Linked DNA regions of Homo sapiens: regions 2 and 3 are each reported to be linked to region 1. Evidence: microRNA targets listed by miRTarBase, many of them from high-throughput screens and not tested one by one. Region 1 holds a microRNA gene; each other region holds the end of a gene's coding sequence.
Evidence for each region. The annotated mature microRNA hsa-miR-4776-3p reads CUUGCCAUCCUGGUCCACUGCAU and lies in region 1 at 4,784-4,806, shown strand. An mRNA with a match to its seed (bases 2 to 7 or 8) in the 3' UTR can be bound and repressed. Matches are read on the target gene's strand: a 7mer-m8 pairs with bases 2 to 8, a 7mer-A1 pairs with bases 2 to 7 and ends in A, and an 8mer does both.

Region 2: the mRNA of AFF4 is a reported target of hsa-miR-4776-3p. Seed matches in the 3' UTR shown: 7mer-A1 at 1,832-1,838 and 7mer-m8 at 1,127-1,133.
Region 3: the mRNA of TRPS1 is a reported target of hsa-miR-4776-3p. Seed matches in the 3' UTR shown: 8mer at 4,570-4,577.

The regions. Positions count from the first base shown.
Region 1 is chr2:212,923,759-212,931,066 of GRCh38, reverse strand. MIR4776-2 (microRNA 4776-2) reads left to right here and starts at 4,731; the gene lies at 4,731-4,810. MIR4776-1 (microRNA 4776-1) reads right to left here and starts at 4,810; the gene lies at 4,731-4,810. RefSeq lists an enhancer at 1,100-2,299.
Region 2 is chr5:132,874,415-132,881,414 of GRCh38, forward strand. It overlaps AFF4 (ALF transcription elongation factor 4), which reads right to left. Exons shown (of 21, transcript NM_014423.4): 21 at 981-6,772. The coding sequence ends at 6,645. It overlaps LEAP2 (liver enriched antimicrobial peptide 2), which reads left to right. Exons shown (of 3, transcript NM_052971.3): 3 at 1-632. The coding sequence ends at 32. Among named protein-coding and RNA genes, the nearest start is that of LEAP2, 4.2 kb to the left of the region's middle.
Region 3 is chr8:115,407,229-115,414,506 of GRCh38, reverse strand. It overlaps TRPS1 (transcriptional repressor GATA binding 1), which reads left to right. Exons shown (of 7, transcript NM_014112.5): 7 at 1-6,011. The coding sequence ends at 484. Among named protein-coding and RNA genes, the nearest start is that of TRPS1-AS1, 99 kb to the left of the region's middle.

The DNA.
Region 1 (7,308 bases):
ACTGTCACTCCTCAGTGAATGGCTGGATCTATGTTCAATTGATCTAATCAATTCAAACCTCAAGCTGCTAACCATTTCAACTCCAAGTGGCCAGATAATTGAAAACTAAGTGAATTTTACTGAATGGTCTAAAAAAAAAATGCTTTCATTCTTTAGAGTATATCTTTAGGACATACATTTAGCCTAACCCAGAAATACAGCTTATCTATTTTTAGTACCTGGAAAGAGAGCTTTCAACAACCTCTCACTGACTCTAACAACATACTAGAAGACAGACTTTGAAAAATTTCAAGTAGAAAAGAGTTAAATTTCCCCACCCCCACCCCCATGCGGTGATGATAACTCAGAATGATAAGAGTTTAGAAGAAATGAAGAATAAAAGAGATAACTCTTTTGTTTTTACTATGTGTAGTTACTTGTATCTATTATGACATGGAGGTTAAATTCTGGTAATTTTTGTTTTCATCTAGAAGAGTTGATCATACACTGAAAATGTTCTATTTTTTTTAAGAACATTCTCAGGAAAGGTTTGATCTCATTTAGATGTAAAAGCATTTAAGATTTTCAGTAAAAATGAAAGGACATTGTACTATACCAGTTAATGCGTTTTCTTTGCAAGCAACAGACAGAAACTGGCCAGCTTAAAGAAAAGTGGGATTTAGTGGAAGACTGTGGAGCAGCTTTCAATACCTAAGAAATAGAAGCACAGCCAGACCTCCAGGGAGATAGATGCAGAGCAGTGGTGGGGATCTGGGTGAAGAAATAGATACAATCTCTTTGGGAAGATATAATAAAAATAAAAAATAAAAAACTCAGCTCCAACCATGTTCTGTCCTTGGGCCAGATTCCTGGGACTTCTATCTGATCGGTCTTGGCAAGTGAGAGTAGGGATGGGGAGGAAGTGCCAACTCGCCCCTTTGCACTTTGATCCATAGTTTGACAGTTCCATGAAGATGGTTCATAATGGCGATGGGCAGATCCCCAGAAAATCAGAGGGACACTCTCAAAACAAGGGGAGGGGATACAGGACTGGCAAAAAACAACAAATGGTCACCACAGACATTTTTGTTCTATCAAGGGAAAAAAAGTTTTCTCTCCAAGTTAGTCCATCTGATCTAGTGTTGCTGACATCTTTCTGCATACCTGCATCAGGGGTTCATATACTACCCAGCTTTAATGAAAGGCCATGGCACACTTTATTAATGAAACATTAGTAACAATTTTAGAAGTTGTAGCTGTTCATTGTAAGTCATTTTGCAATTTTACAATGAGTTATTTAATAGAAAGGCAGCATATTTTAAGTAGATACTACCTTGCTCATCTCACTTCTTAGGATGATCACATAAACACCATTTTTTTGTATATAAAAGCATCTAATTTATATTATGTGATCCATGCACAACATTAACATCAGACATTGTGAAAAATTCATGTTCTTTTTTACCTTATGAAATGAAAGATGTTTTATGTTTTGCTTCACGGGATGTTGAATCCATTCAATTTTTACTTTATTTAATTCACTAATGCTCAATTATTATTTTAATCATAACCTGAGTTTGCCTTACCTTATTTTCTCCGTAGTATTCAGTGATGTGGAGAGAGGTAAAGAAGATGTCAGATGTTAAATATAATTAATGTTAAAAACAGATCTGATGAATCAGGGTGTTACTTCTGAAGAGAGTGACTCAACAAAGACTTGCCGGTCATAATTACTAAAAATTAGTCATTCTGTGAGATCTTTTTGCTGATACTAATAGATGAAACACCTTTGAGGGAAACCCTTTTGAAAGTGCTGCAATGTGACCTCAGAGAAACATGCCTTTCCAGACATTATACTAGTTATCAATTCATTCAAGAAGATGTGAGCAAAGTTTTCTTAGAATTTAAATATCACTGACAAGTGTATTTATGAACACACTTCTTTTCCTAGCTAAGTTCTGGGTAAGTGATCTTTGCTCTGTACTTTGCATTCCATGAATTACTTAAGACTAAAGACTTAACCTCTGTAAATCTCAATTTTCCGGTCTGCATGATGGGGACAATATTAGTGCCTACCCCTTAGGGCTAGATTGAGTATTAACTGAAGCAAAGCATGTCAAACTTAGCATAGTACTGGACACATACCAGAAACAAGTTAATATTAGTTAATCTAATTCTTATGAAACAACTTTGCAATGGTTTGAAAATTCCACTGATTTTCCCAGCATATTTGGGAAGTCTCTTTAATTTCATCACACCAGTGGATTTCATCTGCTTTCCAGTTTATGTTGCAACTCCTCTTCCCTAGGACTGTCAAGTTCCTTTTCCAAGTTATCTTTAGTGTGCAATCGGCTAGATCCTTCCTTCTCCGCTTTTCGTGAGGGAATGAACAGGCACATACCCCTCATGGCCAGGCCTCAAAGTGCCAAGAAGAGAGGCCAATTCCCTTGACATTTCTCCGTGTTCCTCAGGGCCATCTGCTTCCCTTTTCTGCCTCATCACCTTTAGAAAAATCCTCTTTTGTTCTCTCGGTTGCCAATGAAGACTGTTGTCACAGTTTGCCAGAAGATGTACTGGCATGCCCAGTGATAATGGACTCCATAGATAGGACTTGGAGTCCTCACGAATGAAATTCCCACTTACCTGGACAAAGTAATAACAGGAGAGATGGCCTCTCAAAGAATACTTTGAAAAATAATAAATTCTAGAGAATTGTATATTCTTAGCATATGATACATCTCATATAAAAGAAAACACTGAGATATTCCTATGGACCTTTTTTCTATTAATACATTATTTGAACTATGTCTTTTTATAGTATTTATTTCCTTAAGATCTTAGACATAAACCTAAGTTTGCAGGGAAATACTCATGTCTGAAAGGAGATGTTCTTAAATTGACATTTTACATATATCAGTTGTCACAACTTAAGATCCCACCTTTACTCAATAGTGCTTAAGGGGTCATGGAGGAAGATTTGATTGATTGTTTTTTATGTATACAAGGGGCAGGCCGGGTGCAGTGGCTCACGCCTGTAATCCTAGCACTTTGAGAGGCTGAAGCAGGTGGATTGCCTGAGCTCAGGAGTTCAAGACCAGCCTGGGCAGCATGGTGAAACCCCATTTCTACTTAGATACAAAAAAAACCAGCCAGGCATGATGGCTCCCGCCTGTAGTCCTAGTCCAGCTACTCGAGAGGCTGAGGCAGGAGAATTGTTTAAACTGGGAGGCAGAGGTTGTAGTGAGCCGAGATCGTACCACTGCACTTCAGCCTGGATGACAGAGTGAGTCTCTGTCTCCAAAAAAAGACAGAGTGAGACTCTGTCTCCAAAAAATGAAAGTATACAAAGGACAGTTGTTTTACCCAGAAAGGAAGAAATAAGAAAGTCAATTATTAGAAATTTGTTTAACTGGCATGTGTTGAGTTCCTATACCTTATTAGATACATTTGAACATTCTTTCATTAAGTTCTTAAAAAATATGAATTAGGTATTATTTTCATCTCCCATCTTACAGATAAGGAAACTAAGATTTAGAGAGTATAGGTCACTTGCCCAAGGTCACGGACTACTGGGAAGCAGGGACATGAATTGAATCAAACTCTTTTCAAATCTAAATTCAGTGCACTTAATTTCTGTGTCATGCCATCACACTTTCTCTCCATGAAAGCTAATTTCTCTTTTAACATTAGGTTTTATAGGTAGTTCTACTAATTATGTTTGTGAAGTTTTGTTTTCTTTTCCCTTCACAAGGGCTGGACACAGATCAGCATTCTCATGTTATGAATGATTTAGCTTCGGATTACTCTTCTGCAAATGGAGGGAGGAGGCAAACCTCAAATTAAAGGCAGGGTTGGAATATAAAAGTCTCAGCTCCTCAAGAGTCCAGAAAAACCTCCTCCCAAGAGTGCTGTGGCCTCTTGGCGCCTCTCCAGGCCCAGCCTGCCTGCAGGACTTGCTTGCTCCATCTTGCCGGTTCTCAACGGAGAACTCTTTGTTTTGGACCCTGTTCTTGTATTCTGCTCAGTGGACTTGAAAATTGGAAGTTTCCTTGCTTCCTGGTCCTTCCTGTGCCTGGGAAACAGACTTGGAATTCTTCTTTTCTTCTCTTCATTCAGCAAAAAGACAACCCCACCAGTTACCATTCCTTGTATTAGTTCTTGGAACCCAGCCTGGGCCAACAGTTAGGCCCCCTGAGAAAAGAAGCCTAACTTCATTTGCCTAGTCCTTCCCTCAATAGATTAAGAAATGAAGAGAAAAAAACCTTCTTAACATATACTACATAATACTAATATTTACTTTAAAAAAAAAATAAAGGCTTAACCCCTGCATTTTCATCACTTGAGAAAATTGATATAAGCTAATATTTTCAATAATTTAAAGAAAATAAACCATTTCTTTCCTGCTCCCCTCCCCTTCTGAATATTCGGCATAAATAGTTGCTTGGGTAGAATAAATTCTCACTATTCATTGGTTTGAATGCTTGTGTATATCCCAAGGGTATACACAATGACCTCTACACACATGACCTCTGTTTTACATAGTCAACTTTTATTTTGCTGAGGCAGAAATAATGCATGCAGCAAAGACTGCCAGCTGTTTACCAAAATCCCTTCTCCTCTTCTTCCTGAGCACACAGCTAGACTATACTTCCCAGTCTCCATTGCAATTCTGTGTGGCCACATACTAGAGCTCTTGCACTGCTGTGTTTTTGCATCCCCTTCTACCTTCTGGCTTCCTGAGATGGAGCAGACTATATGCAGTGGACCAGGATGGCAAGGGCTCTACTGTCCTTTCAGGAGAGCCCTTGCCATCCTGGTCCACTGCATATAGCCGAGCTCCCACTGACCTGGAACCCTCATCCTGGACTGTTGTCCAAAAGAGAGATAGATGTGTTTTTCCCTCAAACATGAGAAGCTGAATTTGGCGGTCTATTTGTTACGATATCATAGCCTGTCCTAACTGAAACAGGGCACATGTAGTATGTAGCACAAGTTTCTTAGCTAGTGAGAGTGCTTAGCAGAAGCTCAGTGCCTGCCCTTCACCAAGATTTGAGGTTTCCTACTCATGGAGTGTCATCAGTAACTCTTGCCAAGTGATAAATCTTTTGAATATTGGTGGAATATGATAACACAAAGTAAACTAACCCCTAAATGTTGGTAGCAAAAGTAAAATACAATTGAGTGTGTCTTAGAGGGCAAAGGTTCTTGGCTAAAAGGTGGTTGTTTTCTAGAGTTTAACAATAAAATACCAAACTCATATTAGAAATAGGAATAATTTTACCATATGCTCCACATATAGAAAGAATAAAAAACTCAATTCTGGAACTGTTTCACCAAATGCTTCAACCAGAATTTTAAAAATAAATATATAAATAACTATGGTCCTGAATTTATAATATTAATGATATGTAGGAATAATTTACATTTTTTGATTTAACTCACAACATTTCAGGTAGAAAATTATATGGTATATATATGGAAATTTAATGATTTACACACACCCACACTTACATATATACCGACATACAAAGTTATCACCTTATGATATATTCCTTCTAAATATTATTTGTTTGATCCAAACTCTAGGATGAATTTACCTTCTTAATTCTCTAAAACTATGATATTAGACCACATATTTTTGCATCTTAAATTGTAAAATTTCAGAACATAGAGAAAAGAAGAAAAGAGATATAAATGATATTTATTCAAGACTATTGAACTCATGTGGAAAAATAGTCCCCCGAGGACGTCAGGTCCTAATCCTTAGAATCTGTAAATACTACCTGATACAGAAAAAAGGTTTCTGTCTGTAGGAACCTAAGAAAAGACATTTTTAAATTAAAAACAATTAAAACATTAAAAATTTAAGGTCTTTATAGGTATGATTAAGTTAAGGATATTGTGATGAAGAGGTTATCACAGCTTATTAGAATGGGCCCTAGATGCAGTCACGTATATCCTTATGAGAGAGAGGCAGAGGGAGAGCTGACAACGAGGAGAAGGCAATGTGATCAGGGAGGCAGATGGGAGTGATGCAGCCACAAGCCAAGAAGTGCTGGCAGTCCCATGAGCAGGAAGAGGAAAGGCCAGATTCTCTCTTAGAGTTCCCAGAGGGAGCATGGCCTGGCTAACTCCTGGATGTAGGCCTAGTGAAACTGATTTTGGAGTTTTGTCCCCTAGAACTGTGAGAGGATAAGTTTATGTGGTTTTAAGCCATTGAGTTTGTGGTGATTTGTTATAGCAGCCACAGGAAACTAATCCAATTCCATTTTCTAACAGCTGAGTTCAACTTTGCTAAGTTTATATCTGTGATATTTTATCCTAAGTCTTTGGGGACCTAAGTTTGTTTTCCTTTTCCTTGGCCTGGAAAAGACAAATGTCCCACCCATTGTATTACATGTTGTTGAATGTCTTTAGTGAGCTCAAGAGAGGGAACATCTCTCTTCTCCAGCTGAGTCTGAGTCATTGAAAAACAGAGTAAGATAGATAGAGAGGAAATTATCAATTTTATCATTGTTAAAGTTGATTTTGGAGGATCGCCTTACTATCACTGAATCTCAGATTTAGAGAGACTTACCTACCTTATTTCCAACATTAGACAATGTACTCTAAAATGTAGGGTCTGAAATAGCAGAGCAGAAAGTATGCTTTCTCTATGCACATAGCTCTCAAGAGAATGAGGAGGTAAAGGGACTCAATAACATTAAATGATTCCCTCTTCTCCTGAGAACAGAGATGTCAGGACTGCTGTGCTAGTGGAAATCTTTTTATATGGAAAGAAGTGCTGGGAGTGGAGATGAAACATTTCCTATGGTTCCATCTCCTTATGGGCCAAGATTGACAGCTATCTGTGGGCAGAAACAGTGACACTCTAGGCTTTACAAGCCGAGTGGAAGACAACTTAAACCATAGATAGATAGTAAAGTCCTAGCTGCTCTCAGCTTAAATGTGAATTTTGGACTTGGGACAGTGTTTAAGATCCTAAATGAGTCTGCTGAAGTCTAGTTAAGTCCTGAATATCCCCCGATTCACACATGGACCTTTGTTTGTTAGCATATTCCACCCACCTCTTCTTTTAATCTGTTAAAGGAGACTTCTGCTTTATACAATCAGGTAATAAAATCTGTCTTTATAAATATACTTGTTAGTATGCATTTAGAAATCTAAGTCCTCACTCTTTTATAGACAGGCACTAATAGGTTACCTACTTTTTTCACCAAATGATTCTTACTTGAAAATTAAAAGAACATTGCATTTAGTGTTAAAAGCCTGTAACCTCAACATGAGGTCTCAATAACCCAGCTGCTATCTATTTATCTTGGTAGATTC
Region 2 (7,000 bases), not on the chromosome of region 1:
GACGCTGTTCCTTAAGTGTGGCCCAGGAATGATGTACATACCAGGGAAAGAAAGGACAGCAGTCACCTCCGACAATGCTCCGTTCTATGGAATATTGATTAACTGCATTTTGGCTGGAGACACCCAAGTGAAGCAATCTTGTATTTTTAATATTTAAAGGCAGATGTACGCTTTAAATTGGTCTCCATTTCTTCTTAGAATGTTGATATATGGATAAGCATAACTAAACTTGTCAATTTAGAGTTTATTTTTCTATGGATACTATTAAATGTCTCAAATTGAAATTTTAGCAGTCTGGAATTCAAGCTTTTGAGGGAAAGAAGGATTCATTTTGTATACTAAAGAAAAAAACAGCATTGCCCAATAATGTGTTAACTTCTCAATCTGGAAAGTGTAGTGAGAGCTACATAATCAATAGCTACGTAATCAACTTCAGCAAGTTCCTAAGCTGTGGCCCTGGATCCCTTCACTCCATACTCTTCAGGGAGGTGTCAAAGGTGGTCAAGCTTGGGAGGCTGAGGCAGGAGAATCACTTGAACCTGGGAGGTGGAGGTTGCAGTGAGCCAAGATCATGCCACTGCACCCCAGCCTGGGTGACATAGAGAGACTCTGTCTCAAAAAAAAAAAAAAAAAAAAAAGATGGTCAAGCACTTGCCATCTAATGAAGCACCCAGGTTTGTCTATGGCTGTCTGAAGATAAGGCAGAACAGAGAGAAAAATCTAGTTTAATAAAGCAATGAAAGCCCAAGCCACCAAAAGCACCAAAAGAGATTTAAGATTTCTGTTGGGACAAGGTGAATTTTGACATATGCACAAGGACCCATGGCCAGCAAGTTCAGAATTTCTGTAATCAGAAAATGAGACCTCAGCTGGTGGGAACAGACTTTTAAAGAGTAGTAACGGACCTTAAGACACAAAACAGGAATTGCATGAAAAGGGCTCAGAGTTGAAGAAATATAAAGAGTACAGTGTTCAGTAACTTTAATACAGAAAATCTATTTGATATTTATTAAACTTAGTTTCTCCAACTATGGTTTGGCATTGTACAAAGCATCTTAATGACACAGTAGAGTTAAAAAGATCTTTACAAATTGAAATGTGATACCCTTGTCTCCAAATATTTTAATTGCCATAAATTTGTTTAAAAATACACATTAAACGCATGTTTGACACTCTAAACTTTCTATACTCTCAATACCACAAAATACATATAATATACTATACAGATGTGGAAAAATCTAGTTAGTATATAATACTTTGCTCACCATTAACAGCTTTATCGTGTGAAATGCACATACTGACTTAGAAATCCTAGCTTTTGAGCCCCAAAGTACCTCTGAAATTGTAATGTATTGCAACAAATAAAAATCACAGTATATAATTGAAATTCTGGTTGAAAATGTCAGATGCCTAAATATTTTGGATAAAAGAAATGTAAAACAAAGATTTGGTTCATGTACAAAACAAAGGCATCCTTATCAGTCACTAACAGTACCTTTCTGCAAAATCAACAGGCTTTTAATTTATCAGTGACATTATCTCCCCTCCAAAACCCTCCCCAAATATCAAACAATTATATACCAAATAATTTTAATTTCAAATAAAAGGATTTTCAATAAATATATAAGCATTTCCATCCTCCATATACAAAATTTCTTAAAACCATTCAAAACGGAGGCTAGATAGAAATTTTCATAACTGTGCTTACCAACCCCACAACTGGCCCTTAAAGGTGGTGCCTTTTCAGGCAATGTCAACTGGCCAGTTCTGTTGGTGAGCCCCCTACCCCCACCCCACCCATCCCAGTACTGTTGAATGCTCATGTTAATGATTTGCCAGGTGTGTGCATAAAGTTGTAAAATGGGGACACTTCTGGAACACCAACAACAAACTCAACAATATGGATGATCATGGCATTGATTTGAAAGGCAGCATTTCCAAATTGATATTTTCCAGAGAGGAACATAGCAGGTAGAAAATTCCAATGGTTAAAAGCTGAAAAGAAGTCCCACATGGAAGCAGTAAGAGGTCAAAACTGAGTATCACTAGAGTTTCTGGGTGGGAGCTTTTTTATTTTTAAGAATGGCAAGTTATGTTTAGCTGAGTAACAGTGGCAAGGAGAGGTCAATGCTGACATTCCTGAAAGTCAACTTCTTTACATGATGACTACTTAGGCTGCTATTTTAGGATACTTAAAGATCTCTAAGACTTGGATTAGACTTAACTTGAATACCTTATTCTGTGACCAAATTACATGAAAAGAAGATACATAGTTATTATTTCCATTCCCTTTTCTGGAGACAGCAAGTTCTTTCTAATTAACCATAGGGTTCATGTGAATAGGAGCTTTGTAAGACCAGCATCCACTTTACAGACTATTAATAATTTACTTTTTGTCACTTGCTAACTTGGTTTTGGGGTCTAGAGGTCTAAAGTGAATTTCTCCATTAGCGAGTATCTGAAAGACATGCTCACAAACATGAAAAATTTGGCCTCTTCTCACTACATATTCCAAGGTATTCAATAATTATCTCTTCTATTAGTTTTACTGAATAGCAACCTTAGATGTACAGTATTATTACTGGAAAAAAAGCCTGCCTCTTCAATACATTAATGCATAAAGCTGAAATGAAATTTATGTTCCATGTATTAGGGGATATACAGGTATGATAGGTGTCTATATGGGTTTGAAATGCTCTGTCTCCCCAAGTTACTTAGGTTTTTTAAAAAACATCATCACAAGCTGCCTAACAGTCATCCCCAGTAGATGTTCCTGGGACCCAGACACAAACTCCTATAAATCAAAATATATAATGAGGCCATACTGTTCAATTAGCAACTGGAAAATTAAAATCTTTCCCACCCTGTAAGAGCCCTACGACACTACAGAAGGGCTCAAATACATTTTAAAAGTTAATTTACTACAAATCATAGTAATTAAGCTTTAACAATCTAAAGGAATACACATTGCACCCTTGAACATTAATATTCAAGGTGTCAACAAGAAAGTGTCTTAGATCAATTTAATAAATAATGTGGAAATAGTTGCACTAAGCTAAAATACTAAACACACACATATTTGACAAACTAATTTCATGTTTTCATACATACATACATATATATAAAGTGTGTATGTGTACAGAATTTTAAGATCCAAAGTTGCATACCCTTACACCTAGAAGAGTGCACAGTGTACTCCTCCTCTATATAACTAGGCATCACTGACTGGAACAATCACTGGCTGCTCTGAAACTCCAGAGTACTGGCCTCTAGAGCCAGAACTTTCATTTATAACAAGTGCCTTTTGTAGGCTCTTGCTTCAGAATGCAAGCTCATTCATGAAGAAATGTACCAACGTTTCTGTCATTAAATACAAAATTATGCTGTCTGATCTGTCTGATTAAACCTTTAATGAAAAGAAACGAACAACAATTTTTTAAAAACTAGTGAATCTAATAAAGCCAAGTGTGTCATTCAAAGTGCAGCCCAAGTGCCTATGAATCCGCCACTGCCAGAGCTCCCAGAAACACAGGTGTCTGTGGGCTCACGCACACTGCTCTCAATTGTTTTTACACTAGAGAATTAAATAAATGGTGGTCAACCTTCTCCACTCTTCGGCAGCTGTAGCTGTAAGTTTATCTGAAGTACTCACTGCATATAAAGTCACTTCTTGGCTACTTGCCCAGAAAAAGGTGGCACTGAGGCAAGGAATGGGCTGGATGCTCTCTAGCCAGACTGGAGCCTGGGCTGAGCTGTGGAAACTCCCCTGAAGGGGAATGCTTCCCACAGCCCAGCCCAGTCTGGCCCAGGCAAGACTACTGTGACAACTGCAACCACTGCAATTGGTTCGTTGGTTGCTTGTAAAGAGTCTAATGGTGTATAGGCTGCTGCCTCCTGGCATACAAGTGTAGTCATAAAGAGCAGTCAACAGAGTAACTGTTTAAAATAGTTGTTGTTTCTATAATTAACCATATACTAAGTACAAGTCTCAGACTAAGTTTTTAGCCACTTGTCAAATTCAGTTTTAAATGCTTAGAAAACACTGAGGACACCTATTGAGGAGGGAGGGGGGAAGGTCACCTGTAAAGGAGTCCAAAGTATGTGCTGGAGCAGATGATGACAAAGACAGAACATCTAAGAAGATAGACATGGAGGAAAGGGAGTAGTATTTCCACACACTATGACATTGAAAATTCAATCATTTATGATAGGATTTTGATCCATTGCCCATTACTACCTTGTGGGAAAAATCCTCCACAATGAAAAGGTTGAAAAATTCATTCTCCAAAAATTGACACAGTTTTAAAGAGAAAATATTAGAGCAGCACCATAAACCATGCAGGAAACTCTGCTTTAACAAAATATCAGTGTGACCCCAAAAATGCTCCTGCTGCCTTTCAGGACATACAAGAGACTAGAACACAAGAACTCAGAGGTATCCCACTGGCTGTTGTTGCTGAAAGTCTGAAAGCCCAGAGGATACTTTTTCCATTTCTAAGACATCACTGCAAATTAAGGAATCCAAGTCAGAAAAATCAGAGAAGGACAAGACATAACATGTATTTGATTAACAACCATTATTTCTTACTAAATAACTATCATGATCATTGAGAAGTTGTCCTCTTATGGAAAACTGTTCCTAGAACACACTAAGATTAAGTTAGAAAGATATCAGAGGCAATTTCTCCAAGAGAAACAGGTTAAATTCAACATAATTTGTACATCTCAATCTTCAATGACATCTAAAAACAATCTGAGGTACAAAACAGTTAAGAAGCTCTATAAATATGAGGCCACAGGGACAATGAAAGTTCACTAACTTCAGAAATAAGTGTAAAAAAGTCTCAAACACAAAGGATTCACTGCACTACTGGACTTGAAACTTTTCTATCCCTTCTTTCCCCTTTCCTATTTCAAGCCTTAGCAATCATCTACAAATAGTAGGATAATCTTTTTTTCTGACTGAATGGATTCATTTTTGGAATGGGGAGAGGGACAAACTATTTTTCAAAGCAGCATTACCCAACTGGTTAGACTAAGTCATGTACCAAAGCAATAGCTTTTCTGAAAGAACTAATCTTTATATGACCCTAAAGAAAGATTTAAAATGAAAGAATTGAACATTATTATTGTAGAAGACCAATCATGTATGGACGATCTGGTCCTAGTGTAAAACTTCATTTGTAAACAATCCATAGAGTCTTCATTTAAAGGTAAGATTTAAGGCACACCAAACATGATAGGGGCATGAAAAATAAAGTATAGAGGGTACATTTCTTATCTTAGACTTCTATATGCACCTTGTAGCAAAAGGTACTTTGATATACAACTCTTACAGAGCCAGCTTCTTTAAGCTCTACCCCTGGCTCCACTCCCTGTCCCAAGAGCTCACACTGAATCAAGTTAGGTACACTTTTCTAGTGTGAAATTTTCTGATTCCATCAGAAACATACATCATTGAAGAGGGCCTTCATAATGCAAAAGGAGTAAACAGAAGATAGGTTTAAAAAGGAGAAATTCATCATCTCTACATCAGGCATTAGAACTGTAAGCTGTATAGCAAAAGCACACACCGAAGCTCCAGCCTATTTCTGTATCAGTCATTGCATGCTCATATCAGAGCATCACAATCCAGTATGAGGGGGAAAAATCTGAAAAATAACTCTAACTATCAAAGATAATCAATTAAAGACACACAGGCGGCAATCCTCAGGAGTTGGATCATCCTTTTTTCCACAGTAACTTATTCTGTTTCGATTAAGTGTCAAATGATTAGCAACAAAAAATAACATATGGTTTTAATAAAATCCGTAACGTTCAGGATTGTCCTTTTATGAAACCCTTCAACATGAAATGCTTCTTCTAGAAAGTTTGTCCTCCCTCTTTTGTAATGCATTAAATGCAAGCTATAGTCACTGTGTGATTGCTGTAGTGTTATTAACACACATTCACAGTTTTTGAAATAATGCATACCAAATCAGACACATTTCATAGTACATACATGTAGAATGCCATTTTCTCATATTTAAGTGATTTTTTCATGTGTAGAAGAATATCCTTAATACTAACTGTAAATTCCACAATAATAAAATTGGAGTTAAGATTTCAAATATCAGGTCAGGTAGCAGGTGTAGAAAGAATATGTCCTTATTTTAGACGAACCAATTCTTACTCTTAGAACAGCTACCACAAAAAGATATTAGGTAATAAAGCTCCCAAGGTATATAAATAAAAATGTCTACATTAAATTTATGCTAAATATTCAACAGAGTAAATTTATAGGCAGAAATAACTAAGTCTTAAACTAGCCCCAATCTGGGAACTTAAAAAAATTAAAATAAATAAAATTTCAATTCATTAGTTATGAATTGCAACTGGAATTTCAATCTTATCATAGCTCACGGAAACCATCTTATCAATGTGCTGCAGATTTAAAAGCATTTAAATAATCTTTCACATTGGAAATATTAAAGGGCCAACTGACATGATCGCTTTGGATTATCAAAAACAACAACACATGAACCAACGAGGAGAAAACTATTCCTCATTCTTAGTGTCGACTAGGTGGTATGTTATGGCAGTTTTCCTTCGTGATGTGACACAGTGTTGTGGAGAAAATCAGAGGCAACGAGAATGTGTTCAGTTCAAGATATCAACTTGGCATCCTGGCGAAGCCAGTGCAGTCCCTGCCGGGTATAACGAACTAGATCTGTCATGATGCTTGCATTAAAGATGAGAGGGCCCATTACTTTATCCAGTTCAGCAAAGAATTCTAGAAAACCAAAAACATTCATTAAATGATATATACTCTTTTGAATCACTGCTTTAAAACTATGAGTAGAGATTATAAAACAGCATTCATAAACTCAAAAAATACCTCCTCCTACACTAAAATGCTTACTGTCCATGTTTTAGAGCAAATCATTCCATAGTCTCTCAAGTTACATTTGTTCCCTAAGTCATGCAACATTTTAAACAGAATGTATGGTCAGAAATTAAG
Region 3 (7,278 bases), not on the chromosome of region 1:
TCCTGGGAATCCGCACTACTTGAGTCACGTGCCTGGCCTACCAAATCCTTGCCAAAACTATGTGCCTTATCCCACCTTCAATCTGCCTCCTCATTTTTCAGCTGTTGGATCAGACAATGACATTCCTCTAGATTTGGCGATCAAGCATTCCAGACCTGGGCCAACTGCAAACGGTGCCTCCAAGGAGAAAACGAAGGCACCACCAAATGTAAAAAATGAAGGTCCCTTGAATGTAGTAAAAACAGAGAAAGTTGATAGAAGTACTCAAGATGAACTTTCAACAAAATGTGTGCACTGTGGCATTGTCTTTCTGGATGAAGTGATGTATGCTTTGCATATGAGTTGCCATGGTGACAGTGGACCTTTCCAGTGCAGCATATGCCAGCATCTTTGCACGGACAAATATGACTTCACAACACATATCCAGAGGGGCCTGCATAGGAACAATGCACAAGTGGAAAAAAATGGAAAACCTAAAGAGTAAAACCTTAGCACTTAGCACAATTAAATAGAAATAGGTTTTCTTGATGGGAATTCAATAGCTTGTAATGTCTTATGAAGACCTATTAAAAAAATACTTCATAGAGCCTGCCTTATCCAACATGAAATTCCCTTCTTTTGTTATTCTTTCTTTTGATGAGTAGGTTACCAAGATTAAAAAGTGAGATAAATGGTCAATGAGAAAGAATGGAAGATGGTAAACAATCACTTTTTAAAACCTGTTAAGTCAAAACCATCTTGGCTAATATGTACTGGGGAAATAATCCATAAGAGATATCACCAGACTAGAATTAATATATTTATAAAGAAAGAGACCAAAACTGTCTAGAATTTGAAAGGGTTTACATATTATTATACTAAAGCAGTACTGGACTGGCCATTGGACCATTTGTTCCAAAACCCATAAATTGTTGCCTAAATTTATAATGATCATGAAACCCTAGGCAGAGGAGGAGAAATTGAAGGTCCAGGGCAATGAAAGAAAAATGGCGCCCTCTCAATTTAGTCTTCTCTCATTGGCCATGTTTCAGATTTTGACCTAGAAATGCGAGCTGTGGTTAGGCTTGGTTAGAGTGCAGCAAGCAACATGACAGATGGTGGCACGCTGTTTTTACCCAGCCCTGCCTGTACATACACATGCACACCCTCTCTGATATTTTTGTCCTTTAGATGTTCAAATACTCAGTAGTCCTTTTGTTTGCGGTTTAGATTCATTTTGTCCACACATGTACCCATTTTAAAAAACAATGTCCTCGATGCTTCTGTAGTGATTTCATTTTAGCCAGGTATTTCTTTCTTGTGTGTGATGAACCAGTATGGATTTGCTTTTCTAAGCCTCCTGTTGGTTACTAATCTCACTTGGCACATTATAACTAAAGGAATCCCCTCAATTCAAAAGCATAGATGGATACAAATGTCAGACCGTGGGTTTAATTTGTTTAGAACACATGGCATTTCTTCACAAGGTAACCTGCTGTATTTATTTATTTTCTTTTGGTTAAATATAATTTCCAAACTTTGTGGTCAGGCAGCGTCTAAGGTTACGTTACCACAGACTGACAGTTGGTATATGTACCAGCCAATCCCTTCATTAAATGTATACAGATTTAGTTAAGTAGCATTAAATAGGATTCTTAGAAGTATGTCCTCATAGAACTTTTAATACTTAAGGCTTTGTAAAAACTATCCATGAAGGGAAAGCTCCTCAGCATAACTGCTCAGGGAAATAGGGCTAAATAACTGAACATTAAATAATTGGTTAAAGGTGCTGTTAGTCGAGCCTCAATGCTTGCTACAAGGATGTATGTACAAGGACTGACTTTAATAATTTGCATTATATTGTCCCAACCAGTAGTTTATTTTTTGCCACGGAGATGTAGAAGATATTACAAGCTACTGGATGCACTGTCAGATTAACTTATTTCATTAAAGAAGTTGGGAGAACAAATAGGAAAAAAAAAACTTATTTTTCTAGTAAATATTAATGTATTACATTTCAAATAATGGTGCCTGACATATTGAATAATTATTTTCTACAGTGTACGTATGCAACAAAGATATTCCATCATGCATTAGAGTCAGTTCTGGCTCTGCCTAGCTGTTTACATTTGCAAATGTAGCAAACAAGGTAATGAAGCAACTATTTCTATTGCAGTAGATATCCTTTTGTGTGTGTGTGTGTGCATTAAAGTTGTAAACGGTAACATGAAACAAATGAAAGTTCTTGCTATAATGGTATGGAAAACAAGAAGGAAATGAAAATATTTTTATGCCTACTTAGGAAAAAAAGGGTAGCACTTATTCATTCCAAGTACTTTTTTTTTTTTAATTTTTAAGCTCTTAACTCACATTGTTATGCTTAAGATGATAAACATATATCCTCTTTTTATTGCTTTGTCTATGTTTCATATGAAACATTTCAGAAATTATTTTGATAAGTGTTGCTGGAATCTGCAACGCTGATTTTTTTTTGCATTCTGTAGTCGCATTTGCACTCCATTTTTACATTAATTCGCAGTTGCTTTGTATCATTGTTTTGTTTGGGTTTTGTTTCTTTTTCACAGTGCCGGGTCTTCGTTTCTTAAAGTTGGATGGCAGGTAGAGTTCAACCAGTTCGTGACTGTTGTAGCGAATGAAGTTAAAAAAATGTCTTTCTGATGTTGTGTTGTCATTTTCATTTTTGCATTTTTTTGTTTGCATATTAAAAAAAGAGAAAAGAGAAAGCAAGAGACAGAAATCAGGACTAAGTCCTCTGCTTCAGTTTCATTGTTAACGGGCCTTATTCTGATCTCACCTGTCGCGTAGCTCTAATATTCACATAAACTGAAATAAAGAAGTGGAATGAGGAGCTTTGACATTCAAATTATGTGATGTAATTTATCTTCCTTAGGAATTTTGATGGATGCATCTCAAAATGTATAGCCAGACTTGAGAGGTGACAATTAAAGATCTAAAAAAGAGAGGAGATTCCCCCAAACAACAATATTTAATTTTCTTAGTAAAAAGAATAACAGAATGCATCGTGGCAATCCTTAAGCAACATTATCTATGTGGACTGCTTAAATCAGCAAAACACCAGAAGTTTGGTTAACTTGGGCAATATGACAAGTATTACTTTTTGGGCAAAACTACTCATTAAGCAATTTCTCTAGTGTGTCGGACACAAATAGGTTCTTTATTTTTGGCATGTATGCCTTTTTATTTTCATTCAATTTTTTTTTTTTCTCAGACAGACATAGTAGTAACGACTAGCATTGGAAAATACATATCACTATTCTTGGAATATTTATGGTCAGTCTACTTTTTAGTAGAATATTTTTGGATAGCGTTGACACGATAGATCTTATTCCATACTTCTTTATTATTGATAATTTTATTTTCATTTTTTGCTTTCATTATTATACATATTTTGGTGGAGAAGAGGTTGGGCTTTTTTGAAAGAGACAAAAATTTATTATAACACTAAACACTCCTTTTTTGACATATTAAAGCCTTTATTCCATCTCTCAAGATATATTATAAAATTTATTTTTTTAATTTAAGATTTCTGAATTATTTTATCTTAAATTGTGATTTTAAACGAGCTATTATGGTACGGAACTTTTTTTAATGAGGAATTTCATGATGATTTAGGAATTTTCTCTCTTGGAAAAGGCTTCCCCTGTGATGAAAATGATGTGCCAGCTAAAATTGTGTGCCATTTAAAAACTGAAAATATTTTAAAATTATTTGTCTATATTCTAAATTGAGCTTTGGATCAAACTTTAGGCCAGGACCAGCTCATGCGTTCTCATTCTTCCTTTTCTCACTCTTTCTCTCATCACTCACCTCTGTATTCATTCTGTTGTTTGGGATAGAAAAATCATAAAGAGCCAACCCATCTCAGAACGTTGTGGATTGAGAGAGACACTACATGACTCCAAGTATATGAGAAAAGGACAGAGCTCTAATTGATAACTCTGTAGTTCAAAAGGAAAAGAGTATGCCCAATTCTCTCTACATGACATATTGAGATTTTTTTTAATCAACTTTTAAGATAGTGATGTTCTGTTCTAAACTGTTCTGTTTTAGTGAAGGTAGATTTTTATAAAACAAGCATGGGGATTCTTTTCTAAGGTAATATTAATGAGAAGGGAAAAAAGTATCTTTAACAGCTCTTTGTTGAAGCCTGTGGTAGCACATTATGTTTATAATTGCACATGTGCACATAATCTATTATGATCCAATGCAAATACAGCTCCAAAAATATTAAATGTATATATATTTTAAAATGCCTGAGGAAATACATTTTTCTTAATAAACTGAAGAGTCTCAGTATGGCTATTAAAATAATTATTAGCCTCCTGTTGTGTGGCTGCAAAACATCACAAAGTGACCGGTCTTGAGACCTGTGAACTGCTGCCCTGTTTAGTAAATAAAATTAATGCATTTCTAGAGGGGGAATATCTGCCATCCAGTGGTGGAAATGTGGAGTAAAGAAGCTGGTGGTCTGCTTCTGTGCTGTATGCCAGCCTTTTGCCTTAAGTTGAGAGGAGGTCAACTTTAGCTACTGTCTTTGGTTTGAGAGCCATGGCAAAAAAAAAAAAAGAAAAAAAGATCAAGTCGTCTTTGGTGAGCCAGTAAGGTGAAAGCTTGCTGACTGTCCAAGGCACAAGAGAAAATTGAGGAATTGAAATGCAACCTGAGTATCAAACTAAATATTCTAATCAAAGGTAGGTACTGTTAGGTGGAATTCTATCAGCAGGCAACTGCAAATGAGAAGAAGATAGAAGGACGCCCGTCGGGACTTTGGAGGGCATTGTTATTTTCCCAAAGAAAGACGGCCAAGGGCAGAGGCATGGATTCTTTGCAGAGCACTTCCTTTTGGTTTTTCAGTACTGTTTCATAGACAGTGGGCTCACATGTTCCTGATAGTGCTGCAGTTGCTTAGAAAGCATCCCAGTTAATTGCAGTAATTAGAACTTCTGGAATATGCTAGGGCAGAAGTATGTCAAGTATGTCACATGAAGAAAATGTGAAATTCAAGAGTAATCCACACGTGAGAAACTAGACAATGTACATTCATGTGTTCTCTTGAAAGGAAAGGGAGAGCTGTAAGCTTCACTCTGTCCTACACCGGAGAAAAGCAGGAATAACTTTACCGTGGAAATAATGTTTAGCTTTTATCAGAGAAAATTGTCCTTCTAGAGCATAGAGTCCCAAAACTCAATTCTGGTTTTCCCCTGTTTTTTTTTTTTTTTTTTTTCCCAACATATAAACTGCAGCATATCACTTTTTCTTTTTGTGCCTCAGGTTCCTCAGCTGTAAAATTGAAAAATATATGTATTAATAATATTATTAATAATAATAATGGTAATGTAGTACTTGTTTGTAAAGCACTTTGAGATCCTTGGTTGAAAGGCACCATAGGAGTGCCAAGTATTATTATGTGGCCAAGGGGGTTATTTAAACTGTCAGTTCCCAAAGGCCAGGAAAGGTTGGGGTCATTTTTCTTAAAGACGAGCTGTAAATATCAACTAGGCAGCCAATAGTGTTGACTATGAAGATGCAAAACTATTACTAGGCTGATAAAATCATAGTTTCTTAATGGCTACCAATAAGGCAAATATCACAATAATAAACGCCAAATTCCTTAGGGCGGACTATTTGACAACCACATGGAAAACTTTGGGGGAGGCATGAGGGGGGAACATCTCAAAATGCCAATGTAAAATTTAACTTACAGCAATATTCACCAGCAGAAAATGTCTTTCATATGGAATGATTTCATGTTGCTAAGAAAAAGAATTCAATTTGTAGTCCTGATTTGAATACTAGAATGTTGGCTATAATAGTTCTGTTCTTACAACACATGAAATTTTTTCGTTTTATTTTATTTTGTTTTCATAGTGCATGTTCATTTCTACTCACAAACATGTTCTTGGTGTATTTCTTATGCAAACAATCTTCAGGCAGCAAAGATGTCTGTTACATCTAAACTTGAATAATAAAGTTTTACCACCAGTTACACATAACGGCGTTGGTATGGTTTATATGGATTCACTTTCATCCTTCTAGCAATAGGAAATACAGATCATTGTAATATATATATATATATATATATATATATATATATATATATATATATATATATATACAGGCTCTGCTGAATTGAAATGGTGAAATCAAATCACCATTCTAAAAAATTATTACTTATATTGATAAAGCCTGGACTCTCTCAACTTGTTGTGCTTTGATTTTTTTTCTTAAACAAACACTCTCTCACTGATATATTTTGTGTAAAAAGATATATACTACTTTCTCCAGAGAGATAACATAAAAATGTGTTTATTTCAAAAACATTCAGTTGAGTATCAAATATTGAGTGTCGAGTATTGGGTAATGATTATGTTACGATGTGTAAAAACTCCTGCTTATGAAGTTTAACTTTGAATTCGGTATACTCATGTGAACATGATGCAATTCCTAATCAATCATCTCAAAAAGTTTAAATTAATATATCAAATATCTTATTTGTTTGGTTAAAATCAAATTAATCAGGGCAAGTTCCCTGAAAGATGACTTTGAAAGAGAAATGAGGCAGAACAGATCCAGATAGGAAAGGACGTTGGCAAGACTCACCTGCATGTTTTTAACCAGAAGGAAAAATACAAAAAGACAGAACATAAAGTATATAAATAATTGATTGCTTCAGAAGATTTGCTTGGAGAGTTTAAAATAATTAGTATCTCCCCTCATTATACAATCTTCATTTCTCATTTTTGGGAGCCCAAATTAAGGAACAAATCCTTCTAATTATTATTTTTTTTTCTTTTTTCCCTTTTTCTTTCCATGTTTTGAAAATAGCAGAGAGTCTTTGAGGGGCTTTCATAATGGCAATGCCCTTGCTTTGCAGCTGGAGGCAATGTTCTCTAGATAAGAGTGTAATAATAACATTTAATGTGATATACTTCCTTAAGTAGAACTTGATTCTTGTGTCAAGGACCACCCTTCAGATAAAGAATACACATGATCTCACCCAGGACTGTCAGAACCCCATTAGAGGAGGAATATGTAGCCATCAGCTATTTACCCTTGTTTGCGGGGAGAGAAGTGAGTGAGTCATCATTGTCACTCTGCTCTCACCTCTGGGTCTTCCATCTCTGTGTGGACGGAGCAGGGGTCCAGAAAAGGAACATACAAGGACACAAAGGAATAGGCAAGTAGCCTCCATGGATACAGCCAGCTGGGTAGAGACTTTGGGAACTGGAGAGCTCATTCCACACGTATAAAGGTAGT